2 linked regions of the Homo sapiens genome follow. The protein of the gene in region 2 purifies or fractionates together with the protein of the main gene of each other region. This does not show direct contact. Each region holds a gene or a part of one and is shown on either strand. Other genes may lie near its edges.

The links.
Region 1: the proteins of UBL7 (region 2) and RAD23B purify together in Homo sapiens (affinity purification with mass spectrometry; 2 studies listed by BioGRID and IntAct, with this or other methods). This does not show direct contact.

The regions. Positions count from the first base shown.
Region 1 is NC_000009.12:107,285,907-107,289,778, reverse strand, and holds part of RAD23B (UV excision repair protein RAD23 homolog B), read right to left. Parts: intron 1-3,872. UniProt on the Homo sapiens protein: Multiubiquitin chain receptor involved in modulation of proteasomal degradation. Binds to polyubiquitin chains.
Region 2 is NC_000015.10:74,447,858-74,451,445, forward strand, and holds part of UBL7 (ubiquitin-like protein 7), read right to left. Parts: coding exon 3,579-3,588; intron 3,003-3,578; coding exon 2,945-3,002; intron 2,213-2,944; coding exon 2,079-2,212; intron 1,819-2,078; coding exon 1,769-1,818; intron 1,497-1,768; coding exon 1,329-1,496; intron 744-1,328; coding exon 621-743; intron 1-620.

The sequences.
Region 1 (3,872 bases), on a different chromosome or scaffold from region 2:
TACCAATAAGTTAGTACTTTCATACTAGTATTCTCATTTTACAGCAGAGGACCAAAAGGCACATACTGAGTAACTTGCCTGAGGTGACACAGCAAGTGGTACAGCCAACTGTACCTCTCAAAACATATCCTAATTCCATCTACTTCTCTACATCTCCACTCCTACTGCCCTGGTTCAAGCTGCAATTACTTAAAACTACTGCACAAGCCCCCTAACTGATGTCTCTGCTTTTCACTCTTGCCCACCCCACAGCATCAAAGTAACCTTTAAAAATCCTACAAGAAATATTTCTTGGCTAGGTGTGCTGGCTCATGCCTGTCATCCCAGCACTTTAGGAGGCTGAGGCAGGAGGATCACTTGAGGCTAGAAGTTGGAGACCAGCCTGGATAAAACATCAAGACCCCATCCCTACAAAAAAAAACTAAAATTAGCTGGGCGTGGTGGCATGCCCCCGTAGTCCCAGCTACTGGGGAGGCTTAGGGTGGAGGATCACTTGAGCCCAGGAGTTTGGGGCTGCAGTGAGCTATGATCATGCCACTGTACTCTATCCTGGGTGACAGAGCAAGACCTTGTTGAAAAAGGAAGGGAAGGAAGGAAGGGAAAGGAGTGGGGAAGGAAGGGAGGAAAGGAGGGAAGGAGAGGAAAGGAGAGGGAAGGGGGAAGGGAGGGAGGGAGGGAAGAAGGGAGGAAAGGAGGGAGGAAGGGAGGGAGGAAGGGAAGAAGGGAGGGAGGAAGGGAGAGAGGAAGGGAGGGAAAAAGAGAAAAGAGAGACAGAGACAAAGAAACAAAGATTTCTGTCCTGCTTGTAAATGTTTCCAAGTTTACCCTGAAAACCCCTAGCCTAACTCACTTGCCTAACTCACTCTCTTATCTCTTACCCAACTCACCCTTATCTCTTACCCATCACCTTAGCAATGCAGGCTTTTTTTCAGTACCCAAAACACATTCTTAAAGGTCTTTGCTCTAGCAGTTCCCTATAGAAAACATTCTCTTCATTCTCGAGTGCTCATTTTTACTCAGCTCTCAGCTTAAATGTCACCTTATTCAGAAAGGCCTTCAGTGACTAGTAAATTTAAAAGTAGCCACCCAGATCTCCTGAGCTCAGGAGTTCAAGACCACCCAGGGCAACATGATGAAACCCTGTCTCTACTAAAAATACAAAAAAATTAACCAGGTGTGGTGGGGCACACCTCTAGTCCCAGCTACTTGGGAGGCTGAGGCAGGAGAATCGCTTGAGCCCCAGAGGCGAAGGCTGCAGTGAGCCAAGATGGCGCCACTGCACTCCAGCTTGGGCTACAGAGTAAGACTGCATCTCAAAAACAAAACAAAACAACAACAAAAATGTAGCCACCCAGTGAAGTATTATCAAATACTTTATCCTATTTCAACTTTCTGCATAGCACTTACCATTACCTGGTTTTTAAAATGTATTTTTTGACAGTTTTATCCCACTAGAATGCACATACCATCACAGCAGGGCCTGACATCTAGTAAGTACACAGCAAATATTTATTAAATAAATAAATCAACATGCAAACACACTACGTTGGGGGATCACTGCTTTGCCAGTTCACCAAAAGAATATATTCAGTTCATTCAAAGATCTTTACTAAATGCCTACTGTGTGCACGGCATCAAAACAGCAAAAGTCTGGCAAAAATGTACCAGATTTCTCAGTTTCTTCCTGTATCTTGTTCTGCCAATATGCCAAGAACTCTTAATTTCACCTCTGTGATATAGTATTTTTAATACATTTACTACTCATTACCTTAATCTAGGAAGCTTGTATAATATGAAATTGTATCTAGCATGACTATATTGAAAATACAATAAACCACCACAGGAATACTTCACTAATAAATGATGGCTAGTAAATACTGTATAATACAGAGCAAGTACTAAAGCAATATACACACACAGTTTTTTTGTTTTTTTTTTTTTTTTGAGATGGAGTTTCGCTCTTGTTACCCAGGCTGGAGTGCAATGGTGCGATCTCAGCTCACTGCAACCTCCTCCTCCCAGGTTCAAGCGACTCTCCTGCCTCAGCCTCCTAAGTGGCTGGGATTACAGGCATGCACCACCATGCCCAGCTAATTTTCTATTTTTAGTAGAGACCAGGTTTCACCATGTTGGTCAGGCTGGTCTGGAACTCCTGACCTCAGGTGATCCACCCGCCTCGGCTTCCCAAGGTGCTGGGTAAAGCAGTATTTTATAACAATCACATTATAGAGGTAAACCACGAAATTAGGTAATTCTTCACAGCACACTAATATGCTATTTATAGATATTAAAACTGATGTCTTTGCAATTCTCTTAGCAAAAACATCCAATGTATATGTAGAATTTTAATGTCACTTATATACTAATCCAATCACATTTCAGCTTTTGCATTTAAAGTCTCATCTCAAATTTACTGAGTTTTGTTTTTAGTTGTTCAAGGCAAACAGTGTCAAGAGTTAGACTGCAGGATTAATTTGTATATCACATACTTTTTCTTGTCACCATTTCAGTGATGCAATAAAATACTGCACTGTATTTTTTTTATCTCAAAAGGTTTATTCCTAAATCTACCTTTCTTAATGTTTTTAAGCAACAGTAATATAAAACACTAATTGACTATAAAACTGAGCTTAAAAACTGTATTCCATTTCCCTCTAAATGTCCATCACACCATTAAACTTCAGAATTTTTTTTTTTTTTTTTTGAGACGGAGTCTCGCTTTGTCGCCCAGGCTGGAGTGCAATGGAGTGATCTCAGCTCACTGCAACCTCTGCCTCCTGGGTTCAAGCGATTCTCCTGCCTCAGCCTCCCAAGTAGCTGGGACTACAGGTGCATGCCACCACGTCCGTCTAATTTTTTGTATTTTTTTTAGTAGAGACGGGGTTTCACCGTGTTAACCAGGATGGTCTCGATCTCCTGACCTTGTGATCCGCCCACCTCGGCCTCCCAAAGTGCTGGGATTACAGGCATGAGCCACCACACCCAGCCTAAACTTCAGAATTTTTAAGAATTTCAGAGAAGCAGTGCTCTATCACACATCTCAAAATGCTTTAATATGTAGGCTACTTAAAAGTCTCCCACAATTTTTACAGTAAAAAACAAAAAAAGCACATAATGAAGAAAATCTCCTAGCAATGGTCTCCCTACCCCACACATACCACCTTCTCATTTTGTTTCTATATTGTTTGAATATTTTATAAGAAGGCTTGCATTACAATTGTAGAAACAAAAAGATCTTTGCAAAGATTAACACTAAAGGCAGTGGTCATGTAATGTATCACAGTAATAGTCAAGTAAATGGTACAAAATGCCTAATAAGTCTAAGAAAGTTTTGTTAAAACTAGGGCAAATAAAAACACCTTAAAACAAATTATCTTGCTCTTTCCATTTTGTATATCCCCCTACTCTATAGCCAATGAGCTTTGACTAAGTCAATAAGGCTCCCAGAAGCCCCAGACCACGTTCTACAGGTCCCTGTACTCCTCCAGTCCTGCCAGCAAAGCTCACTAAACATTTACTTGTTCAACAAATGAATCATTCCCATGATTCCACTTATCTCACAGTCCTTTCTTCCATTTTTGCTCATGCTCATCTCAAGCTCACAAGAGTTGCTATACTGGCTACGTAAGTTACTTAATTTCCTTGGTTCCTTCTAGGTAAAAATTAAACAAGGACAAATCTGTGACCAGACCAAAAACAGGTCTCAATAAGATCCTATCTTATTTTAGATCTATTTCTAATATCCTTGGTTACCTCGTTCTCACAACAACTTAGAAACAGGACACTTAGCGTTGCCCTAGAAAACATAATTTTCATTGTTTATTTTCTTACTGGAATTCTAAGGTGTCGTATCAAAAACACATACTAATTAA
Region 2 (3,588 bases):
CACTGCATCCTAGCCTTGTAGTTTTGAGTATGTCACATATACCTCCACACATGTGCACAAACAGGTAGCTGTCTTCACCTGGAAATCAGCCCCTTCCTACCTCAAACCCCCTTCCCTGGCTAGCTAACTTCTAACTAATTCTTCTGACAATCAGCTTAAATACCCCTCTCTCAGAAAAGTTTTGTCTGACCTAGGCCCTTACTTCAAGCAGCTGGGTTTCTTGCCTTGTTGCTCCCCAGCTCAGTGCCTGCCTGGTGCCCCTCCATGGCAGGGATGAGAACCAGCTTGCCACTAGCCCAGCATCTGGACTCAGGCCTAGTATACACATGCTCAGTCAATGATCACTGAATGAATGAATGAAATGGCCATGATTATCTAAGCCAGGTGGTCTAGGGAGTCAGGCCATGGTCACTAGGGGCAGGAGAAGCCTAGTGACCACTGTGTATGGTCTGAGAGTGTGCCCTTGCTAGGAACACTCTGCACCTGTCCCACTGCCATGCTCCAGCTGTTCCTAGAATGAAGCATGCCAGGTGTGAAGGACCGCCAGAGAGCAAAACAAAGGCTGGGCATCCAAAATAACAAGGAAGCCACATGGAAACCAAGACGTGGGGAAGACTGACCTGAAGGCTGGGCTGCCCAGAGGCCTGAAGGGCATGCTGTAGGGCTTGGCTGAAGAGATCATTGGTGATGGGCGTCCCTGACTGGACACCAGAGGACATTGGTGAGGTCCCTGAGGAATGACCCTAGAGACAAATTAGTGGTCAGTGCCACCCTCAGCGCCATCTCAATCTTATAGCAGATGCTCGCTGTTGTCATATCACCTCACAGCACTCCTGAGGTACCCAACTTCTGCCTCCCAACAAAGACCTGCCATAAGACAACCAAACAAAGGTAACTAGAAGCTCTCTATGTGGGCAGGAAAGGTTCCATTCTCTTCTGCACTGAGCCCCTTGTCCCAGCCTAGGACCCCAGCACTGCAGCACTGGGAGAGATGGCCTTGAAAGCTGAAGTGACTTGTCACCCAGAAATGCTTAAGCTGGTGATGTCTGCTCCCTGTCAGGGATGAGGAAGGGCATATTGTGTGCAGGAAGAGTCTTCTGAACTAATAGGGGGGACTACACGGGACCATGTTAAAATCTAGACTTCTGAGTCCTCAAGGCAAGTGAAGGGGAGGTCACTCAAGCTGCAGTAAGAAATCCCCACCAGGACTCCAGGGTTCAGCTTAAACTAGATCTAGCACCAGGGTCAGCAAAGGCAAATCTACTCTACTGCTGGGGAGCTTGTTCCTTGGGGGCCCAGCCTTGATCTTCCCGGCCCCGTCTTCATACCTGGGTGCCAGGAGTCGGTGTGTGAGAGCTGCTCTCCGGAGTGCTGGCCAGGGCCAAGGCGGTGGCCAGCTCACTCTGGGTGATGGGCCGGGGCCCAGCAGCTCCACTGTACCCCAGGGAGGCTGGGCGGGAGCTGGGAGTACTGCTAGAGGGTGTGGACCTGGTGTTCTGGAGAAAGAAGACACTCAGAATCAGGGAAGCAGTACTGTGAAACTCCCAGATGAACTCCACCCACCTCCAGCAATAGTTCTTGGGGAAACTCTTAAGTTCCCAGGTTCAGAAAGGAATCCAAAAGCAGAAATAGTATGACATGGTCTTGGCCCCCCAATGGCGTATGTCCATCTCCCAGCCTTGGGAGTGCCAGGTCCCAGGATGCAGCTCATTCCCAGCACCATCTCCCCCACATGTCAGCATGTCAGGCAGGCAGGCAGGCCACTTACTGGGTGAAAGTCATCCTCATCATCTGAGAGCCCTTCAAACAGGAAGCCACCTGGAGGAGGACGAACAGATTTCAGGAGGAAGAACAGAAAGGCACAGGCGCAGCTCCAGAATCTCAGCTCAAGTTACTCTCCAAATTCATATTTTCATCTCTCCCCTCGGAAAATTACAGGACAGATGCACTTCCTGACTCAAACCGAGAGTTCCCAAGGAACGCCCTCTGCCAACGCTATACATAGCTGCTGAGTAAAGCAAATTCCTGGGCCACTGCCGGCTCCTGAGGGGCCCACATTACACTTTTCAGGCGCTCACCTGGCATATCCCGGTATGAGCTGGAGGGCATGCTCCGGGAAGAGGAGTCAGTCCCAGGCATTGGGGCACTGCCTGCTACGGAGTGCAGAACCAGGACAATGGCATTGACGAGGGCTGGGTGAGCAGGCACCAACCTAGGATAGAAGCAGGAAGAAACCCAAGGGTGACTCCAAAAGAGCACCCTCAGCCATAACAGGAGTTCTGGGTGCCCCCTCACAACAATGCAGCCACCTGTGCCTGCTCTCAAATTCCTCAGTCTTTAGCATCTTCCACCAGGAAGCTTTATCCTCCTGCTGATCTGCCCCCAGCAACGGGTGCAAGGCCTTCAAATTCCTGGGGTCCGCTGCAGATTCTTCACCCTCTCCACAGGCAAGGCATGATGGGAAAGGTGCAGCCTGGGAGGCTCAGGGTTCTGGCCTGAGCACATGAGGAGTGTCTGGTCTAGGCACCACTACTACATCAGGCAACCCTGGACTGGTCCCTTCTCTTCCCAGGGTGGGGCTGTTTTCTTCACTTGCAAAATGAGGACATGTCCCTTTTAGCTTTGACACTTTACGGATCTGTACACCTGCTTCTCCTTTTGCCAGCTTAAAATCCTTGAAAAGCTCCCTAATTTCTACCACACGAAACCTAAACTGAGCCTGGCAGACAAGACCCTTTCCCTCAGAATCCTGCTTCCTCCCAGCACTCTTGACAAAAGCCCTGCTCTTGGGCTTTGCTCTTTCTCACCCCCTGACGTATCTAAGGGGTAGACTTGGTGACAGACTATGGATGGGCTCCCAGAGCAGACTGCAGGGTGACAATTAGGCTTCTGGCCTGAGCACGAGGAGAGAGAAGGTACCCTCTAATAGGACAGGTACACTTACGTATCAAGCATATTGGGATCAGCGAAGACAGAGAAGAGGTCCTTGTCCTGGAGAACCCCTGAAAAAGAGCAGAGCTCACCTCAAAGAAAGGAAATCAGCCAGATCCAGGAGGGAGAAGAGGCTTTGCGTCTCAGAGCAACCAGCTCAACAGGGACACAGGACAACAAGCCAATCTTCATGAGAAGTAGAGGAAGCAAAGCGCCAAGCAATACAATTCAGGTACTCCTCATCTTGGTCTAGTGAGGATGGTCCCCTGCTCTCCACCTCCCCTGCACTTTAGTCACATCACAGACTGGGTACCAAGACACCTGTCTCTTTCTCCCGTATCTCTGGGTTCTTCCCTTACTCAGGGTGTGCAGGACGCCTTCCCTGATTGCTGTGATGTGGGCTAACTGCTATCCTCATTTGGCATCCTCATACCCTTATTTACGATGTTAGTTAGGCCATTATCTCTCTGTGGGACTGAGAGCTCTTAAAGGGCTGGGGATATCAAACACACCTTGATTACTCTCCCTCTTCCCACAAGACCAGTCATTCTTCAAAAGATAGTCCAAGTCTCTTTAGAGGAATTGTCTTCTCCTGTTTTCTCCTTTTCCGACAACTCCTATTTCCTCAAATTCAGTCCTGCACTTACCAAGAGCAAT